Linked DNA regions of Homo sapiens: regions 1 and 2 are each linked to region 3. Evidence: fine-mapped expression QTL. A gene starts in region 3. Each other region holds a variant in brackets. All regions are shown on one strand. Distances are between the middles of the regions.

What was found. PIP is the estimated chance that this variant, and not a neighbour inherited with it, causes the effect.
Region 1: its variant is the best candidate, but not a certain one, in a credible set for the expression of MTRES1 in unexposed skin (GTEx, PIP 0.68).
Region 2: its variant is the best candidate, but not a certain one, in a credible set for the expression of MTRES1 in CD4 T cells (BLUEPRINT, PIP 0.81).

What each region holds. Positions count from the first base shown.
Region 1 is chr6:106,994,906-107,002,308 of GRCh38, forward strand. No RefSeq gene overlaps it. Among named protein-coding and RNA genes, the nearest start is that of CD24, 24 kb to the left of the region's middle. The variant G/A (reference allele first, on the strand shown) is at 4,557.
Region 2 is chr6:107,052,295-107,059,697 of GRCh38, forward strand. No RefSeq gene overlaps it. Among named protein-coding and RNA genes, the nearest start is that of MTRES1, 28 kb to the left of the region's middle. The variant A/G (reference allele first, on the strand shown) is at 2,759.
Region 3 is chr6:107,023,818-107,031,220 of GRCh38, forward strand. MTRES1 (mitochondrial transcription rescue factor 1) reads left to right here and starts at 4,382. Exons shown (of 4, transcript NM_016487.5): 1 at 4,382-4,454. RefSeq lists a silencer at 4,201-4,670 and enhancers at 4,781-4,890, 5,001-5,100.

The sequences.
Region 1 (7,403 bases), 29 kb before region 3:
TCATTTCATTGATCTGTTTAAAATCCTTCAGGGTAGGCCGGGCACGGTGGCTCATGCCTGTAATCCCAGCACTTTGGGAGGCCAAGGGGCAGATCACGAGGTCAGGAGATCGAGACCATCCTGGCTAACACGGTGAAACCCCGTCTCTACTAAAAATCCAAAACAATTAGCCGAGCATGGTGGCGGGCGCCTGTAGTCCCAGCTACTCAGGAGGCTGAGGCAGGAGAATGGTGTGAACCCGGGAGGCGGAGCTTGCATTGAGCCAAGATCGCGCCACTGCACTCCAGCCTGGGCAACAGAGCAAGACTCCATCTCAAAAAAAAAAAAAAAAAAATCCTTCAGGGTATATGGTGGGGATGTCTTGCCAGATAACAATAATTCAAGCATACCCTGAGAATGACCCCAGGTTCTCTTTCTTTGTTTTTTTGAGACAAAGTCTCACTCTGTCACCCAGGCTGGAGTGTAATAGTGCGATCTCAGCTCACTGCAACCTCCACCTCCCAGGCTCAAGTGATTCTCCTGCCTCAGCCTCCCGTGTAGCCAGTACTACAGGTGCACAGCACCGCATTGGGCTAATTTTTGTATTTTTGGTAGAGATTGGGTTTCACCATGTTGCCCAGGCTAGTCTCGAATGAGACCAGAGCTCAGGTGATCTGCCTGCCTCAGCTTCCAAAAGTGCTGGGATTACAGGTGTGAGCCACTGTACCAGGCCGTTTGTTTGTTTGTTTGTTTGTTTGTTTGTTTGAGACAGGGGTCTCACTGTGTTGCCCAGGCTGGTCTTGAACTGCTGGGCTCAAATGATCTTCCTGCCTCAGCCTCCCAAAGTGCTAAGATTACAGGCATGAGCTGCCATACATGGCTGACCCTATGTTCTTTGGTGAATGTTTGTTCACTGTTCTGAGCTATGGACTCTGGGAGAGGCCAACCTGGATGTTTACGCTGTACTTATGAAGGTGTGAAGGCTCAGAGCAGGGACACAGATGGGGGCATGAAGAACACCTGGACCCTGGCCTCGTTCCTTGGAACACAAGTCATACAAGAAGCCAGTGGCCTAGGCTGGGCACAGTGGCTTACGGCTGTAATCCCAGCACTTTGGGAGGCCAAGGCAGGCAGATCACTTGAGGTCAGGAGTTCGAGACCAGCCTTGCCAACATGGTGAAACCCCATCTCTACTAAAAAACATACAAAAATTAGCCGGGCATGGTGGCACGTGCCCACCATGCTACTCGGGAGGCTGAGGCATGAGAATCGCTTGAACCCAGGAGGCAGAGGTTACAGTGAGCCAAGATGGCACCACTGTGCTCCAGCCTGTGAGACAGAGTAAGACTCCTTCTCAAAAAAAGAAAAAAAAATAAATCAATGGCCTTTGTTTTAAGCTAGGTGGAGGTTGCTAAGTAGAGGTTGCTGTGTGGGAGTTCCTACTAACCTGCATGCTTTCCACAAAAGGCAGTGGAACTCCTGTCCAGCCTTCCACTCTTGGACACTCCATACATAAGTCCCCTGAATAAACTCTGTCTTTTTTTTTTTTTTTTTTTTTGAGATGGAGTTTCACTATTGTTGCCCAGGCTGCAGTGCAATGGCACAATCTTGGCTCACTGCAACCTCTGCCTCCTGGGTTCAAGTGATTCTCCTACCTCAGCCCCCTGAGTAGCTGGGATTACAGGCGTGCGCCACCATGCCCAGCTCATATTGTATTTTTAGTAGAGACCAGGTTTCTCCATGTTGATCAGGCTGGTCTCAAACTCCCGATCTCAGGTGATCTGCCCCTCTCAGCCTCCCAAAGTGCTGGGATTACAGGTGTGAGCCACCATGCCCGCCCTAAACTCTATGTCTTACCCACTGTCTTCAGGTCTTTTCTTCGGTCTCTCGGTGACTGTGCCTTCCCAGTTTGCCTGTTTGGGGGCCCAGCACAACACAAGGAAGAACGCAAGCCAAGGTCTTTCTTTGCTTGGATGATTTCTATGCATTTCTCAGGACCCAGATTAGTGTCATCTCCTTGGAAAGCCATCCCTTACCCTTCAGCCTTGGTTAGGGCCTTTCTGAAGTGTCCACCCCTGCATCCCCCAAGTCCCCAAGCTTTCCTCTGTCATTGTACGTGTAACAGGGATTGCAGCTTTTTCCTCACCAGCTGAGCTCCTTAAAGAAAGGAACCACATCATGTTCATCTTCCTTTCCCCAGTACCTAGTAAAGTGCCTAGTACATAATAAGTCCTCAGCAAATGAATTTCTACACAGGAACCACCAGAATCCAAGCACAATGAGAGGAAGGCCACCTTTTACTCTAACTCCGCCTACTCACTTTATCTTGAATTTATTAACATCCTAGGCTAAGAGCCATTTTATATCTCAACAGAAACAGCAATCTTAGAAAATATCTTCAAGTAACTCTTAAATTAGGATACTATTAAGCCTCCTGGCTAATCTTAGAGCCCTTCGATGGTAGTTTTTTGATTTATATAACCAGTTTCTAAAACACATCTTCACTCACTAATAAACCGACACGTATGTGGGTCATTCTTCTGAAATTTGTGTTTTATTCTAACTGTATATGAAGACTTTGATTTGGTTGTACATGAGAATTTAATCTTTCCACTATGGTGGTAATTTTTTATTTGTCTTAGAGCCTCAGATGTGGCCACCCTGGGTACAACAGGGCATATCATTTCTGTCTCATCTGTAACCTACAGGATCAAGCAGACCTGAGCTCAGATTTCAGCTCACCCACTTCCACCACAGACTTGCCTTTCTGAGCCTCCTGTAAAATGAAAATGATCATATTTATGCTGGAGAGTGTAACAGGATGTGAACATGGAAGTCCTTTCTGTCTCCATTTCAACCGAAGCTCAAAGGCCTTCAACAAAACAAGTTCTCAGGTTCCAAAGTGAGGTGCCAAGCGCCCCCTGCAGGAACTGCAGAGCAAAGGCGCTTTCTCCTCACCCCAGTCCAGTGAGAGGTGCTCTTAGGGGAATAACGGGAGAGACAAACACTTATCTCTTAGAGTTTAGTGGAAGAAGAAAAAAGAATGAGAAATTTAAAGGTCAAGGCTGTGCCAGAGCAGGAAAGGGGCTGCATCATGGGCAGCCTGCCCATCCTCCAACGTCAGCCAGAGACACTCAGCTCTACGTTCCAGACGTGGGCTCCCAGGAGAGCTCTCTGGGGTGCATTTTGAAAGGCCCCCAACCTGAGGTGACATTCTGCCATGGGCAAGCCAGCCTCAGCAGGGGCTGGAGGCGTTCCACAGAGCAGAAAGGGGGACGCGGTCGTGTGTGGGGGGCGTCAAAAGCAAGGCAGCAGCATTGCCCCAGTCAGGCCTGTTGCCACACTGGGGGCAGAGGGAAAGCTTTCTCTCTGCCCACTGAAGGTTTGCAGAGCATAAACTGATGAAATGCAGATACACAGGAGAAAAAGGCATACGAAATTTACTTAATGTGCATAGAAGAAAATCACAAGACTATGATTACCCAGTAACCCGATGAGGCCCGGCTGCTTATATTCTTCTCCATGGGGAAAGGGAGACAGGGGTTGTAGGAGTAAATGATTTCCAAAGGAAATGAATGAGCCAAAGAACGATGGCTGGGGACAAAGTTCCTTTGAGCACTGGGGAAGGCGGCAGGAAGGTGAGGGGTGGACTATTACTGTGAACAAGTGTTCTTTTTTTTTTTTTTTTTTTTTGAGACAGAGTCTCACTCTGTCACCCAGGCTGGAGTGCAGTGGCATGATCTTGGCTCACTGCAACCTCCACCTCCCGGGTTCAAGCAATTCTCCTGCCTCAGCCTCCCCAGTAGCTAGGACTACAGGTGCGCACCACAACGCCCGGCTAATGTTTGTATTTTTAGTAGAGACGGGGTTTCACCATGTTGGTCAGGCTGGTCTCAAACTCCTGACCTCAGGTGATCCACCTGCCTCAGTCTCCCAAAGTGCTGGGATTACACACACACATGAGCCACCGCCCAGACCATCAATGTTGTCTTATTATGCAGATAAAGTCTCCCAGGCAATCTCTCAGGGCTGCTGTCAGAAGAATAGTTAAAAGCTCCACCTGGTTCGGTGGCTCACCCCTGCAATCCCAGCACTTTCAGAGGCCGAGGCGGACAGATCACCTGAGGTCAGGAGTTTGAGACCAGCCTGGCCAACATGGGGAAACCCTGTCTCTACTAAATACAAACATTAGCCAGTGTGGATGCAAGTGCCTGTAATCCCAGCTACTGGGGAGGCTGAGGCAGGATAATCACTTGAACCTGGGAATTGGAGGTTGCAGTGAGCCAAGATCAAGCCACTGCACTCCAACCTGGGTGACAGAGGGAGACTCCGTCTCAAAAAAAAAAAAAAAAGAAGAAGAATAGTTGAAGGCTGCGTACAGTGGCTCACACCTTTAACCCAGCACTTTGGGAGGCTGAGGTAGGAGGGCCCTTTCAGCCCAGTAGTTTGAGACCAGCCGGGGCAACATGACAAAACCCTGTGTCTACACACACACACACACACACACACACACACATACACACAAACACAAAAGCCAGGCACACAGCTGTAGTCCCAGCTACTCTGGAGGCTGAAGT[G/A]GTGGAGGCTGAGTTAGGAGGATTGCTTGACCCTGGAAGGTAGAGGCTGCAGTGAGCTGTAATCTCGCTACTGTACTCCACACTGGTTGACAGAGTGAGCTGCTGTCTCAAAAAAAATTTTTTTTGGCCGGGAGCGGTGGCTCACGCCTGTAATCCCAGCACTTTGAGAGGCCAAGGCGGGTGGATCACAAGGTCAGGAGCTCGAGACCAGCCTGGCCAAGATGGTGAAACCCCATCTCTACTAAAAATACAAAAATGAGCCGGGCACAGTGGCAGGTGCCTGTAATCCCAGCTACTTGGGAGGCTGAGGCAGGAGAATAGCTTGAACCCAGGAGGCAGAAGTTGCAGTGAACCAAGATCGCACACTCTAGCCTGGGCAACAGAGCAAGACTCTGTCTCAAAAAAAAAGGTTTTTTTTACTAATAATTTAAAATTTACATAATAAAATAAAAATAGATGGAAAGTCTATCTGGGTATGGTGATGACTCCCAGTCTCTTCTATTCTCGGGTAGTTGATCATTCCTGGCTATCTGATGAGGTTCCTAGAGAGAGGGGTCTTAAAATAATTGCATTTATTTTGGAAAGAAGCTTTGTTAGTCAGATAAGGAAATTCCAGAGAGAGTTCCTGGGAAAGAAAGAGAAACAAAGAGACAGAAAAGCTGGGAAAAGTCAAGAGAGGGAACTTGGTTCTGAGGCTTATCTCTGAGGCCTTTCAATTTCAAGAAGTAAACTCCATGAGTTTGAAAGAGTTGGCTTAATCTTCTCAGTGTACACAATCAAATATGTACATAATTATATACGTACATAATCGTATAAATTCAGTGTATATAATTGTATAAATTTATGAAAGTTGTTATCCCCTACTGTTTCCCAGAAAACCCTTGACTCGGAGATGGGAAGAACTTGCATTCATTGTGCACCCCTTAGACAACTGTCTGTTCCATCACACACCAAGGCCTTCATGGACATCTCTGGCCCTGCTGAAATGGAATAAAGAAACTCCCGGCCAGGCGCGGTGGCTCACACCTGTAATCCCAGCACTTTGGGAGGGTGAGGCGGGCAGATTACGATGTCAAGAAATTGAGACCATTCTAGCCAACATGGTGAAACCCCGTCTCTACTAAAAATACAAAAATTAACCGGGCGTGGTGGTGGACATCTGTAGTCCGAGCTACTCGGGAAACTGAGGCAGGAGAATTGCTTGCACTAGGAGGTGGAGGTTTCAGTGAGCCGAGATCGCGCCACTGTACTCCACCCTGGGTGACAGAGCAAGACTCTCTCAAAAAAAAAAAAAAAAAAAAAAAAGTAAGCATTTGGTCTAAATTATGCAAGTCAGATATTAAGTTTACTAAATGCTTTAAGGTCATAAAGTGCTTCTTTGTCTTTTGAAAATTGTTCAATTTACCTACTTTGGAGCATTAGATTCTAAATAAAGACTAGGATATGTGGAATTAGCCATGCCCCCTAGCTATGCAAAGAAGGTTATAAAGAAAAGATTTTAAGGCTGGGTGTGGTGGCTCACACTCATAATCCCAGCATTTTGGGAGGCCGAGGAGGGTGGATTACTTGAGGTCAGGAGTTTTAGACTAGCCTGGCCAACATGGCAAAACCCCATCTCTACTGAAAATACAAAAATGAGCCGGGAGTGGTGTCAGGCACCTGTAATCTCAGCTACTCAGGAGGCTGAGGCAGGAGAACCATTTCAACCCGGGAGGTGGAGGTTGTAGTGAGCCAAGATCGGGCCACTGCACTCCAGCCTGGGCGATAGGGCAAGACTCTGTCTCAAAAAAAAAAGAAAGAAAAGAAAAGAAATAAAAGAAGAAATTTTGTATAAGAAAGGATGTTGTATGGTGAATACTTGTCCTAAAGTAAAATGACTGATTGCTTTAAAAAAGGGAATTTATGCAAGAAATATATAAGTTAAAGGTTTCTGGGTCTCCTAAATGCTTCATAAAATGCCATTAGGACTCTTAACTGTACAACTTTCCTGCTTTACAGCTAGATAAGGCCTGGGACACATGAAGTTAGACAACGAAAAGAGTCAGACCTTATCTGCACTTCTGTCTACTGTCACAGGCTCCACACCTAGCACATAATTAAAAATCTGAACTCAACCAGGCACAGTGGCTCACGCCTGTAATCCCAGAACTTTGGGAGTCCGAGACAGGTGGATCACGAGGTCAAGAGATTGAGACCATCCTGGCCAACATGGTAAAACCCTGTCTCTACTAAAAATACAAAATTTAACTAGGCATGGTGGTGCTACTTGGGAGGCTGTGGGAGGAGAATCACTTGAACCCGGGAGGCTGCGGTTACAGTGAGCTGAGATCGGGCCACTGCACTCCAGCCTGGCAACAGAGCAAGACTCCGTCTAAAAAAAAAATTCTGAACTTACCAAGGTTTTCACCAAAAGTAAAAGTTGCTAAGAGTTAACAGTGTAACATATATTTGGGACTACTAAAAAAAAAGTTATACGTGCAAGGTGTATAGAAAAAGTGAAATGTGGCCGGGTGCGGTGGCTCATACCTGTAATCCCAGCACTTTGGGAGGCCAAGGCGGGCGGATCACCTGAGGTCAGGAATTCGAGACCAGCCTCAACATGGAGAAACCCCGTCTCTACTAAAAATACAAAATTAGCCGGGCGTGGTGGTGCATGCTTATAATCCCAGCTACTCAGGAGGCTGAGGCAGGAGAATTGCTTGAACCTGGGAGGTGGACGTTGCAGTGAGCCGAGATCACACCATTGCACTCCAGCCTGGGCAACAAGAGCGAAACTCTGTCTCAAAACAAAAAAAAAGTGAAGTGTGTTTTTGGTAAAAGATAAGAAGTCATGGGAATGTGGATTTT
Region 2 (7,403 bases), 28 kb after region 3:
TACCCCTTTACAGAAAAAGTTTTTTGACCCCTAGTTTAGAGTAATAGGTAAGGGTTTAATTTTCGGGTGAAAGCAAACATACCTGTTTTATCAATGAAGAGAATAAAACCAATTCTAATTCTCAAAGTGTCATAAAATGGATGAAGGCTTAGCAGAGTAGTGTGGCGGGGTAGACACACACATAATGTACGTCATCTAAGAAAGGACTTGCGGATGAGTAGGCCAGGCTATAAATTCCCAGGAGCTGTTTCCTGGCACTTGGAGAGATCACCTCCAATAAGAGACTTGTTAGATTATGTCACATCGAAAAGACTGGCTGGTCCAGGCGCAGTGGCTCACGCCTGTAATCCCAACACTGTGGGAGGCTGAGACTTGAGGTCAGGAATTTGAGACCAGCCTGGCCAACACGGTGAAACCCCATGTCTACTAAAGATACAAAAATTAGCTGGGCATGGTGGCAGGCACCTATAATCCCAACTACTCAGGAGGCTGAGGCAGGAGAATCGCTTGAACCTGAGAGGCGGAGTTTGCAGTGAGCAGAGATCGCGCCCCTGCACTCCAGCCTGGGCAAAAAGAGCAAGACTCCATCTCAAAAAAAAGAAAAAAAAGACCCTGTATCTGGGCTCTTATTTGTCCCCCAGGAACTCCTGAGAATCCTTAACTGTCAGTGAAGAGAAACTTCTATAGCCCAAAGCAGTGGGATGTTTGGGCTCATGTGTCTGGAACTGTTAACCAGCTTGTTTTTCTTTCTCTTTTTTTTTTTGAGACGGACTCTTGCTCTGTCACCAGGCTGGAGTGCAGTGGCGTGATCTCGGCTCACTGCAACCTCTGCCTCCCGGGTTCAAGCGATTCTCCTGCCTCAGCCTCCCAAGTAGCTGGGAGTACAGGCACACACTACCAAGTCCAGCTAATTTTTGTATTTTTAGTAGAGACAGGGTTTTGCCACTGTTGGCCGGGATGGTCTCAATCTCTTAACCTCATGATCTGCCCGCCTCAGCCTCCCAAAGTGCTGGGATTGCAGGCGTGAGACACCGCACATGGCCTACCAGCTTGTTTTTCAAAAGACTCAAGAAAATTGATTTTTATTTGAAAAGTTAAACTCTCAGAAAGAAATAATATATACTATGCAGTGTAACGGGGGGTTTTCTATTTTACCATTTGTGAATTTGGCTTTCTTGAGTCATCAGTAAAAATAGTAGCTTAATTTCCACGCGTTATTTATGATTTTTTTTTTTTTTTTTTTTTTTAATGAGACGAGGTCTTACTCTGTCACCCAGGCTGGAGTGCAATGGTGTGATCTCGACTCACTGCAACCTCCACCACCTGGGTTCAGATTCTCCTGCCTCAGCCTGCCAAGTAGCTGGGATTACAGGCCCCTGCCACCATGCCCCCCAGATTTTTTTATATTTTTAGTAGAGACAGGGTTTCACCATGCTGGCCAGGCTGGTCTTGAACTCCCGACCTCAGGTGATCCATACACCGCAGCCTCCCAAAGTGCTGGGATTACAGGCATGAGCCACCACACCTGGTCTGAATTATAATTTAGGAAATTAGATGCCCATATCTTTTCTCATCTTCTCCTTCCTCCCACCTCCCCTTTACCTTCCCCCTCCCCCCTTCCTTCCCATCTCTGGACTTCTCTTTGGAAAGTGATCAGAAAATCTACGAAACCCTGGTTGGTGAGGGCAGCACAATCTAGTGATGTCAGGGGTCCTGGCATTCAGGCCCAGTCCTGCCATTAGTACACTGGGTTATCTTGGTCATAGTTTCACCTTAACCTCTCTGAGCTGGTTTCCTCACTGGTCAAATGGGGATCAAGGTACTGATTGTTCTTTTTTTTTTTTTTTTTTGAGACGGAGTCTCGCTCTGTCACCCAGGCTGGATGGAGTGCAGTGGCTCGATCTCGGCTCACTGCAAGCTCCGCCTCCAGGGTTCACGCCATTCTCCTGCCTCAGCCTCCTGAGTAGCTGGGACTACAGGCACTCACCACCACGCCTGGCTAATTTTTTGTATTTTCAGTAGAGACGGGGTTTCACCATGTTAGCCAGGATGGTCTCGATCTCCTAACCTCGTGATCCGCCCGCCTCGGCCTCCCAAAGTGCTGGGATTACAGGCGTGAGCCACCGCGCCTGGCCTAAGGTACTGATTGTTCTATCTTGTGTCTCAAAAAAGAAAGTTAAAATGAGTAGTATGAGGTAAGATGCATTGACAGTAGCTAGAAAACAGGGCCATTTGAAAGGCTTTTTGAAGTTCTATTGGTCATTAGTACCTCAACTTAGCTGCTTGGGAGGGTTTCATTGGCCCATTCAAACCTTCTGTTTTTTAAAAAAAACAAAGGCACTGTTCATGCCTGTAATCACAGCACTTTGGGAGGCCGAGGTGGGCGGATCACCTGAGGTTAGGAATTCGAGACCAGCCTGACTAACACAGTGAAACCTCATCTCTATTAAAAATCAAAAAAATGGCAGGGCATGGTGGGTCATGCCTGTAATCCCAGCACTTTGGGAGGCCAAGGCGGGTGGATAGCCTGAGGTCAGGAGTTCGAGACCAGCCTGGCCAACATGGTGAAAACCCATCTCTACTAAAAATACAAAAATTAGCCAGGCATGGTGGCGGGTGCCTGTAATCCCAGCTACTCGGGAGGCTGAGGCAGGAGAATCGCTTGAACCCGGGAGGTGGAGGTTGCAATGAGCCGAGACGGTGCCATTGCACTCCAGCCTGGGCGACAAGAGCAAGACTCCATCTCAAAAAAAAAAAA[A/G]GGGGGCTAGGTGCAGAGGCTCACGCCTGTAATCCCAGCACTTTGGGAGGCCAAGGCGGGCAGATCACAAGGTCAGGAGATCAAGACCATCCTGGCCAACATGGTGAAACCCCGTCTCTACTAAAACACAAAAAAACAATTAGCCAGGTGTGGTGGCGGGCGCCTGTAGTCCCAGCTATTCAGGAGGCAGAGGCAGGGGAATCGCTTGACCCCAGGAGGCAGAGGTTGCAGTGAGCAGAGATCACGCCACTGCACTCCAGCCTGGTGACAGAGCGAGACTCTGTCTCAAAAAAAATAAAAATTTTTTTAAAAATGAATAAAATAATATTATCCCCCAAATGTCTACTTTAAAAAAAATGTTAAAAATAATAAACTATTGCCTACCCATCTATGTAAATTTCCAGGGAAACTAGTAAATGCTATTTTAAAAAAATTTTTTTATTATCTTTTTATTTTTCCCTACTTTCAAGCTAACAAGTTATAGTAAATGCTGTTTGGCAGGGAAATGCAGTTAGCACCATGTTTCCTACAGGAGATCTGTTTCTTTTGAAAGGATTACCGTTACTGGTAAAAGAGCTGGCTGGGGTCAGGTGCAGTGGCTCACGCCTGTAATCCCAGCACTTTGGGAGGCCAAGGCGGGCGGATCACGAGGTCAGGAGATCGAGACCATCCTGGATAACACGGTGAAACCCCATCTCTACTAAAAATACAAAAAAAAAAAAAAAAGCTGGGCGTGGTGGCGGGCGCCTGTAGTCCCAGCTACTTGGGAGGCTGAGGCAGGAGAATGGTGTGAACCAAGGAGGCAGAGCTGGCAGTGAGCCGAGATTGCGCCACTGCACTCCAGCCTGGGCGACAGAGCGAGACTCCGTCTCAAAAAAAAAAAAAAAAAAAAAAAGAAGAAGAAGAGCTGGCTGGATAGTCCTCTTCCAAAAGTCATAACTTTAAATTGTTTCATCCTTTAAAAACTGCAGACACTAGCAATATTTTCAGACTTTCCTGGGAAAGCAAGAACTATATCTTAGATTAAAAAAAACAATTTGGGGTCGAGCACAGTGGCTCAGGCCTGTAATCCCAGCACTTTGGGAGGCTGAGGCGGGCAGATCATGAGGTCAAGAGGTCAAGACAATCCTGGCCAACATGGTGAAACCCGGTCTCTACTGAAAATACAAAAACTAGTTGGGCATAGTGGCACGTGCCTATAGTCCCAGCTACTCAGGAGGCTGAGGCAGGAGAATCACTTGAAACCGGGAGGCGGAGGTTGCAGTGACCCCAGATTATACCACTGCTCTCCAGCCTGGTGACAGAGCAAGACTCCGTCAAAAAAAAAAAAAGAAAATTTCTGGCTGGGCACAGTTGCTCACTCCTGTAATTCCTGTACTTTGGCAGGCCAAGGCGGGTGGATCAGGGTGATCCTGAGGTCAGGAGTTTGAGACCAGCCTGGCCAATATGATGAAACCCCGTCTCTACTAAAAATACAAAAAAATAGCTGGGTGTGGTGGCGGGCACCTGTAATCTCAACTACTCAGGAGGCTGAGGCAGGAGAATCACTTGAACCCGGGAGGGAGAGTTTGCAGTGAGCAGAGATCATGCCACTGCACTCCAGCCTGAGCAACAAGAGCGAATCTCCATCTCAAAAAACAAAACAAAAACACAATTCTTCCTTGTCACCCTAATTAGAACAGGGTTCCTCAACCTCAGCACTATTGACATTTTAAGTCAGATAGGTATTTGCTGTCCTGTATATTGGAGGGTGTTCAGCAGCATGCCTGGCCTCTACCTACACGAGGCCCACAGCACCTCTTCAGTCATGACCACCAAAAATATCTCCAGATATTGCCAAACTTCCCCAGCAGGAAAAATCATCTCCAGTTGAGAACCACTGCATTAGACATTTTTTTCTTTAATCTTTTCATATGTTGGTCACATTTTTCACTGAGGAAGCCTTGCCAGGACCACATTAAAAGGCAGTTATCATTTGGGTCTAGTAATGAGTTCCAAGAGCTCCATAAATCTTTATGAATTGCTTTCATGTTTCTCTGTTTCATAAAGATGTTCCAAGTCCTGACTAAATTTTTGTATTTTTAGTAGAGACGGGGTTTCAGCATGTTGGCCAGGATGGTCTCAATCTCCTGACCTCATGATCTGCCCGCCTCGGCCTCCCAAAGTGCTGGGATTACAGGTGTGAGCCACCGCGCCCGGCCTGGGGGATAATTTTAAAGTCATGGTTTATTTGGGCAATAGTCGTTGGGGAGGAGATAGAAACATTACTGGCTTTCAAGAAACTGGAAGTGCCGGGTGCAATGGCTCACACCTGTAATCCCAGCACTTTGGGAGGCAGAGGCAGGCAGATCACCTAAGGTCGGGAGTTCAAGACCAGCCTGACCAACATAGAGAAACCCCCATCTCTACTAAAAATACAAAAAAATTCGCCGGGCATGGTGGCGCACGCCTGTAATCCCAGCTACTCGGGAGGCTGAAGCAGGAGAATCGCTTGAACCCGGGAGGCGGAGGTTGCAGTGAGCCGAGATCGTGCCATTGTACTCCAGCCTGGGCAACAAGAGTGAAACTCTGTCTCAAAAAAAAAGAAAAGAAAAGAAAAGAAAGAAACTGGAAGAAAACATTTCAGTTCGGGGTGATGGTGTATGCTCCTGTAAAACATATTTTGCTGTTCTGTCCATATATTTTAAATTTTACAAATGGCATTATTATATTTCCTCTTGCATGTTCAGGATGTTTTTTAAGATCCATTCATGGCATTATGGGTACATTGAATCCACTGCTTCTCACTGCTGCAGGATAAAGACCAAAGTGCATCCACCATGCACTTTGCTTACCCATGCTCCCAGTGACACTGTCCCAAACTGTACCCAGTTCTCCTCTCGACAAATAACATAGCACTTCTATCCACCAGAATGGCTGCACTGGCTGCTTTCCCACAGGAGAGTGCCTTAGACCCATCACCTCAGCCCCTGGCATTACTCAGCTTTCTAATTTTTGCCAGTATAATACAGGTGTAAAGAGATGATTAATATTACTATTATTTTGAGACAGAGTTTCACTCTTGTCACCCAGGCTGGAGTGCAATGGTGCGATCTCGGCTCAGTACAACCTCTGCCTTCTGGGCTCAAGGGATTCTCCAGCCTTAGCCTCCCAAGTAGCTGGGATTATAAGTGACTGCCACCACGCCCAGCTAATTTTTGTATTTTTTTTTTCAAGACAGAGTCTTGCCCTGTCACCCAGGCTGGAATGCAATGGCACGATCTCGGCTCACTGCAACCTCCGCCTTCCAGGTTCAAATGATTCTCCTGCCTCAGCCTCCTGAGTAGCTGGGATTACAGGTGCCCGCCACCATGCCCAGCTATTTTTTTGTATTTTTAGTAGAGATGGGGTTTAACCATGTTGGTCAGGCTGATCTCGAACTCCTGACCTCGTGATCCACCCGCCTCAGCCTCCCAAAGTGCTGGGATTACAGGCCTGAGCCACCGCGCCCAGCCGTAAAGAGATTATTTTTTAACATGAACTCCTCATAACTTTTTTTTCTCCTTTTTTTTTTCTTGACATGAAGTCTCGCTCTGTCACCCAGGCTGGAGTGCAGTGGCATGATCTCAGCTCACTGCAACTCTGCCTCCCGGGTTCAAGCGATTCTCCTGCCTCAGCCTCCTGAGTAGCTGGGATTACAGGTGCGCACAACTACGCCCAGCTAATTTTTGTATTTTTAGTAGAGACGGGGTTTCACCATGTTGGTCAGGCTGGTCTCGAACTCCTGACCTCATGATCCACCTGCCTCAGCCTCCCAAAGTGCTGGGATTCTGTATGGATGCTGAGCCACCGCGCCCAGCATAACATCTTTCTTATACACACAAGCCTCACAGCCTGCTGCTTCTGCCTTTTGGTACGATCTTGGCTCACTGCACCCTCTGGCTCCTGGGTTCAAGCAATTCTCCTGCCTCAGACTCCTGAATAGCTGCGATTATAGGGGTCCACCACCACGCCTGGCTAATTTTTTATATTTTTAATAGAGATGGTGTTTCGCCATGTTGGCCAGGCTGGTCTGGAATTCCTGACCTCAGGCGATCCACCCGCCTCGTCCTCCCAAAGTGCTAGGATTATAGTCATGAGCCACCACGCCTGGCCAATGCAACTTTATTCTTAAAGTTGATGAGACCTTCCCTAAGGTAGACAAGTGAAATCCTAAAGACCACAGTCAAGGCCGGACCACAGGTGTCTAAAATGGAGAATTTCTGTTTAGAGGTCCGGTAAGGACTCTCTTCTGGAGTCTCACTCAGAGGAGTCACTATTAGATGCTTCTTCACAGAATGCATGTAGAATTTTTGTTAGGATTGTAGGAGAAATCCCTTAATTTTTTTTTTTTTTTAGTAACCCTTATTTTACTTAAATCCTTTAATTCTTGATTCTAAGACAGACAAATGAAAGGTGGGGCTGAAATGATAGTGGCCAACTCTTTGGACGTAAGCAATGCAATCAGCATGAACTACCTGAGGAGAAGGCACCCATCACTAGGGCCTTCCTTACCTATGCTGAAGTATATGCCTCTTTACGCATGGAACTGTGCCTGGGCTAAGATTTCAGCTTGTCAAAACCAAGGAGGAGAGGCATGTCTAATACCCTGTGTCAAAAAGAGCAC
Region 3 (7,403 bases):
CCCGAACTCCTGACCTCAGGTGATCCACTCACCTCGGCCTCCCAAAGAGCTGGGATTACAGGCATGAGCCACTGCGCTGGGCCTTATTTCTAATTTAATATAGCATACATTCCCGTGAACATGTATAAAACTTTATGAAAGTTTGTCCCCTGGAAATTTTTTTTTTTTTGAGACAGAGTCTTGCTCTGTCGCCCAGGCTGGAGTGCAGTGGTGCAGTCTCGGCTCACTGCAAGCTCTGCCTCCCGGGTTCATGCCATTCTCCTGCCTCAGCCTCCTGAGTAGCTGGGACTACAGGCGCCCGCCACCACGCCCAGCTAATTTTTTGTATTTTTAGTAGAGATGGGGTTTCACTGTGTTAGCCAGGATGGTCTCAATCTCCTGACCTCGTGATACGCCCGTCTCGGCCTCCCAAAGTGCTGGGATTACAGGTGTGAGCTACTGCATTCGGCCTTTTTTTTTTTTTTTTAGACGGATTTTCCCTCTTGTTGCCCAGGCTGGAGTGCCTGTTCCTGAGGTCAGGAACTGGAGACTAGCCTGGCCAACGTGGTGAAACCCTGCCTCTACTAAAAATACAAAAATTAGCTGGGCATGGTGACGGGCACCTGTAATCCCAGCTACTCAGGAGGCTGAGGCAGAAGAATTGCTTGAACCCAGCAGGCAGAGGTTGCAGTGAGCTGAGATTGGGCCACTGCACTCCAGCCTGGGCAACAGGGTGAGACTCCAACTCAAAAGTTAAATAAAATGAAATAAAAATAAATAAAAACATTGATGGGGCCAGGTCTGGTGGCTCACGCCTGTAATCCCAGCACTTTGGGAGGTCAAGGCGGGCAGATCACCTGAGGCTTGAAGTTCGAGATCAGCCTGGCTAACATGGTGAAACCCCATCTCTACGAAGAATACAACAATTAGAGGGCTGAGGTGGGAGGATTGCTTAAGCCTGGGAGTTCGAGGCTACAGTAAGCCAAGATGGCACCACTGTATTCCAGCCTAGGTGACAAAGTGAGGCCCTGTCTCAAAAAAATAATTAAATAAATAATTACACCGATGGAAAATCAGGTTGTTTTCATTTTTTAGTATCATACAAATAAAGCTGCAGTGCATATCTCTGTACATGTAGATTTATTCCATTCTCAAACAACTCTTATTTATTCAGAACCTACTATGTGCTAGTCACAGTTCTAGGCATTGGATACAGCAGTACGTTAAACATGATTTTTACCCTGATAGGGCTCACATTCTAGTGGGAGTAGACAGAAGAGTTAAATAAGTGGGAAACATATTAGATAGTGATTAGTGTTGTGAAGAAAAATTGAAAAATTTTAGGACATTTAATAATTTTTTTAGGCTGGATCAAAAATATTCTCTTGATCCTTCTGGTCTCAAACTCCTGGGTTCAAGCAATCCTCCTGCCTCAGAGTCCTGAGTAACTGGGACTAGAGACACATGCCATCACGTAGGGGGTTAATTTAAAATAGTATAATTAAGAGAATGCCTCACTTAGAAAATGACATTTGTGTGAAAACCTGAAGGAAGTATGGAAACAAATCACGTGGTCAGCTGAGGGAAGAGGATTCCAGATGGAGGGAAGAAAGTGTGCAAAAGCCCTAAAGCAAGACATCATCTGAGGTTTCCAGGGACCTCATCCGGGAATGGCAAGGAGGCAAGTATGGCTGAACCCAGAGAGGGAGGAGGAAGGTGGTGGGAGATGAGGTCAGTAGTGTAGATGAGGTCAGCAATGTAGGTGAGTTCAGATGCAGAAGGCCTCACCAGCCATTGAAAGGATTTTGGCTTTAACTGTAACATAAGGTGGGTAGCCTGGGATGGTTTTGGGTTTTTGGTTTTTTGTTTGTTTGTTTGTTTGTTTGTTTGAGATGGAGTCTCGCTCTGTCACCCAGGCTGGAGTGCAGTGGCGCGATCTCGGCTCAATGCAACCTCCGCCTCCCAGGTTCAAGTTATTCTCCTGCCTCAGCCTCCTGAGTAGCTGGGATTACAGGCGCACACCACCACGCCCGGCTAATTTTTGTATTTTTAGTAGAGAAAGGGTTTCACTATGTTGGTCAGGCGGGTCTCAAACTCATGACCTCATGATCTGCCCGCCTCGGCCTCCCAAGGTGTTGGAGTTACAGGTATAAGCCACCGCGCCCAGCCCAGGAGGATTTTAAGTAATGACAGGATTTGATTTGTGATTTAATAGGATCACTCTGGTTATTGTCCTGAGGATAGCCTGAAGAAAGGTAAGCCGCCAGGCGTGGTGGCTCACACCTATAATCCCAGAACTTTGGGAGGCTGAGGCGGTGGATGACCTGAGGTCAGGAGTTTGAGACCAGCCTGACCAACATGGTAAAACCCCATCTCTACTAAAAATACAAAAATTAGCTAGGTGTGGTGGTGCACGCCTCTAATCCCAGGTGAGACAGAAAGGGAGAAATTGAGTGTATCTCTAAGATATCTGACCTAAGTAACAGGAAGGGTGGAAGACTCATTAACTGAAATAAGGAATGCTGTGGGAGGAACGCATTGAGACCCGGATCTGGGTTTTGGTCCTATCAAGTTTGAGATTTCCGTTAGATTTCCAAGTGAAGATGTTAAGTAGGCAGTTGTAGTCTTGAATGCAAGAGAATGATCTCGGCTCGCAATACAAATTTGAGGATCGTCCATATATAGATAATATTTAAAGCCACGAAATTGTTGGAGATCGACTGGGGAACTAGGATAGATAAAAAGGAAAAAGATTAGAGGTCTAAGTATGGGGCACTTACTCTTTGGCATTCTAAGGATGTAATGAAAAAACAGCTGGCTGGGAGTGGTGGCTCATGCCTGTAATCCCAGCACTTTGAGATGCCAAGGCAGGTGGATCACTTGAGGTCAGGAGTTTGAGACAAGCCTGGCCAATATTGGTGAAACCCTGTCTCTATTAAAACTACAAAAATTAGCCGGGCATGGTGGTGCGTACCTGTAGTCCCAACTACTAAGGAGGCTGAGGCAGGAGAATCGCTTGAACCCGAGAGTGAAGGTTGCAGTGAGCAGAGATCATGCCATTGCACACCAGCCTGGGGGCCAGAGCAGGCCTCATTCTCAAAAACAAAAAAACAAAACAAAACAAAAGAAAAAACAGGGAAGAAGATTAAGTGGCAAGTGAGGTAGGTGAAACCAATGGGGTATCCTATAACTCAAGTAAGTTGAGGAATGAGACCAGACCTTTGGATTTACATTGCAGAGGTCATCTGTGACTTTGACTAGAAGTTTTGTTAGAATGTTGCAGGGTGACATCTTGTTTGGTGTATGAGTCAGAGTTCTCCACAGACAGACCTAATGAGAGAGGGATGGATGGATGGATGGATGGATGGATGGACGAATGGATGGATAGTTGGTTGGGAGGGAAAGGGGAATTGGCTCACGTGTAAATTGCGTTGGTCTTGAAAAGATGTTTCCTTAAACTGCGAGTCTGACGTATTTGCACATTTTTCTGGAAACAACGCCTATATCTCTTGGAGATGTTCAAAGAGGGCGGGCTCGGTGGCTTACACCTGTAATCCCAGCACTTTAAGAGGCTGAGGCTGGAAGATCGCTTCTCTTGAGTCCCAGCCTGGGCAATATGGCGAAACCCCATCTCTACAAACAAAACAAAACAAAACAAAAATTAGCAGGCCGTGGTGGCACACACCTGGAGTCCCAGGTACTGGGGAGGCTGAGGTGGGGAGAACAGCTTGAGCCTGGGTAGCAGAGGTTGCAGTGAGCCGAGATCGCACCATTGCACTCCGGGCAACAGAGTGAGACCCTGTCAAAAAAAAAAATGTTCAAAGGGGTTAGTGGTCCCAGAGAAAGGATCACTTCATTAATAATTAAGATGATTAGCCGGTCATGGTGGCTCACGCCTGTAGTCCCAGCTACTTAGGAGACTGAGGAACGACAATCGCTTGAACCCGGGAGGCGGAGGTCGCAGTGAGCTGAGATTACGCCGCTGCACTCCAGCCTGGGCAAGAGTGAGACTCGGTTTCAAAAAAAAAAAAAAAAGAAAAAAGAATTAAGATGGCCGGGCGCGGTGGCTCACGCCTGTAATCCCAGCACTTTGGGAGGCCGAGGAGAGCGGATCACGAGGGCGGGAGATCGAGACCATCCTGGCTAAAACGGTGAAACCCTGTCTCTGCTAAAAACACAAAAAAATTAGCCGGGCGTGGTGGTGGGCGCCTGTAGTCCCAGCTACTCAGGAGGCTGAGGCAGGAGAATGGCGTGAACCCGGGAGAATGGTGTGCCCCGAGCCTACTTCCCGCGCAGTCCTCCAAGACGCGGCCTCCAGCAGGGGTCGCTGCTTCGCTGCCGCCCTGGCCTCGCGCCCCGCCCGACCCGCTCTCACTGCGCCGGCGCCGGCGGAAGGGGCGGGGCGCAGATAGGGGTAGCCTGGAGGCCTGCAGTCCGCGCGGCCGCGGGGAGGGACGAGAGGGCCTGACGTACAGGTGAGTGCGCCTCTGCTGGCGCGCCGCGCCGGGCCCCCTGCCCGCGCCCCCTGTCACTTCGCCTCTCCGCCCCGCCCACGCTCCCGCCGGGTCTCCCCGTGAGTGTCCCGTGTCCTGCCAGCCTCGGGACGCCCCGCGAGCTCAGGGCTGCGCAGGGACTGTGGTAATTGAGCGCGGCGAAGCCTTCCGTTCCTGCCTCCTGTCGCTCCTGCTGGCTCCGAATGCAGACTGCGAACCCGGGGACGCAGTTGTCCATTTCCTTTGACCTTGGGGACCCAGGAAGGTGCACTGCCCGCGGGGGTGGGGAGGGAGCGAGAGGAATCCGACCCTGTCTCAGCCCACAGCCTCCGAGGTCTCCAAGTAAAGGGAAGGATCTTTAGCTGCATTAGACTTCAAAGCGTTTAGACCAGTTTCTCCATCTTACGGAGCGGTGAACGGGCTCAGGAATGTGGAGCGTTTCCTGGCGTCAAGCAGGTCAAAGTCAGCGCTGCTTTTTTTACAGACACTGCTTTTCTTACAGTCTTCGGTTAGTTCAGATTGTATACCTCTCCTGAAGATGTCACCCAAAACCTCCTATGGGATTCTGCCGTGATCATCTCTCCACTCATCCCACACCAACGCCAAAGAGATCTTTTAAAATGAACTTCCATCAGGTCACTTCCCAGGGTCCATCATTGCGTGTTCTTTTCCTGATTCATTCGAATGCACCCGTCCTCCTGATCAATTTTTATTCCACAGGGTGTTGTTTTGTTTTGTTTTGTTTTGTTTTTTTGAGACGGAGTCTTGCTCTGTCGCCCAGGCTGGAGTGCAATGGCGGGATCTCGGCTCACTGCAAGCTCCGCCTCCCAGGTTCACGCCATTCTCCTGCCTCAGCCTCCCCAGCAGCTGGGACTACAGGCGCACACCGCCACACCCGGCTATTTTTTTTTTTTTTGAGACGCAGTCTCGCTCTGTCGCCCAGGCTGGAGTGCAGTGGCGCGATCTCTGCTCACTGCAAGCTCCGCCTCCCGGGTTCACGCCATTCTCCCGCCTCAGCCTCCCGAGTAGCTGGGACTACAGGCGCCTGCCACCACGCCCGGCTAATTTTTTGTATTTTTAGTAGAGACGGGGTTTCACCGTGTTAGCCAGGATGGTCTCGATTTCCTGACTTCCTGATCCGCACGCCTAAGCCTCCGACAGTGCTGGGATTACAGGCGTGAGCCACCGCGCCCGGCCTGTTTTGTTGTTTTTTTTTTTGACACTCGCTCTGTCGCCGAGGCTAGAATGCACTGGTGTGAACTCGGCTCACTGCAGCCTCCCCCTCCCAGGTTCAAGCGATTCTTCAGCCTCAGCCTCCCAAATAGCTGTGACTACAGGTGTGCACCACCACGCTTGGCTAATTTTTGTATTTTTAGTAGAGACGAGGTTTCACCATGTTGACCAGGCTGGTCTTGAACTCCTGGCCTCAAGTGATCCGCCCGCCTCAGCCTCCCCAAGTACTGGAATTACAGGCATGAGCCACCGCGCCCATACTATTTTTATTTTAGATCTCACTGTGTTGCCCAGGCTGATCTCAAACTCTTGGACACAAGCGAGTCTCCTGCCTTGGCCTCCCAAAGTGCTGGGATTATAGGCGTGAGCCACCTGCCTGACCTCATCTTGCCCTCTCAATCCCCCTTACCCTGCTCCACTTTCTTCCCCCAGTGCATTAACCACCAGCTATCATATAATTTACAGGGTGTTTTTTTTTTTGTCTACCTGTTTCCCCTACTAGACTATAAACTCTACAAGAATAGGAATCTTCGTATTTTTTTCCTCTGCTGAATTCCTAGTGCCCAGATTAGTGCTTGGCACATGGTAAGTGCTTAATTAAGGGGAGGATGCCAGTGTTGCTGAAGCTGAATTTGCAAGAGTCAAATTGGCAGATGAGGTTGGAGAGGAAATGGGGGTTGAGGGAGCACCAGATCCTATAGAGCCTTTAGACCATCGTAGAGACTTTGCTGTTCTCTGAGTGCTTTGGTAGGGATTTGAGGAAAGGAGTGACATCGTATGAATGACTTTATTATGTGCCCACGTGGAGGTGTCAAATAGGCAGCTATTGTGTTGCAGGTCCCCAGGTTCATTGATTCACTAAGAGGACTCAAAAGACTCAGCACGTAGTCATACTCACAGCTGTGATTTATTATAGCAAAAGGATACAAAGCAAAATAAGCAAAGGGAAAAGATGCATGGGACACAGTCTGGAGGAAACCCGGTGCAGTCTTCTAAGAGTCCTCTCCTAGTGGAGTCACATGGGGTATGCTTAATTCTTGCAGCATCAAATTATGACAAGACGTGAGAGATCTATCAGGAAAGCTTGTAGAGCTCATTTTTCCAATAAAAAGTCACATAGGCACTGTCTGCCTAGAATGTGCCAAAATTTCCGCCGCCCAGAAAAAAAGCAGGTGTTTAGAATCACATTGTACAGTTTCCAGCACAGTGAGCCACTCTTATCCAGGTGGGAATTGTGGGAACCCTCGTGAAGTTCAAGTTCTGAGACACTAGCCAAGGGCCAACTTTGCAAGCAGGCATTCTAAGGATAGCAGTCTCAGGCCTGTTATGTTAACTCGTTTCTGCACAGATGTACGAGTCTGGAATTTGGGAGAAAGTTCTGGAATGGGGATATAGATTAGGGTGTGGTTGGCATATAGGTGGTATTTAAAGCCACAGAAATGATTGATGTCTTGATAATGCATTTGTAAGAACTAATTGGGTACATTTAAGAGCTGAGCTGGATAAAGTGAATGTAGAAGAGAAGAGGACCAAAGATAGAGCCCTGGGCCGCTCCAACTTTAAGATATCAGGGAGGGCCGGGCACAGTGGCTCAGGCCTGTAATCCTAGCACTTTGGGAGGCTGAGGTGGGCGGGTCACTTGAGGTCAGGATTTCCAGACCAGCCTGGCCAAGGTGGTGAAACCCTGTGTCTACTAAA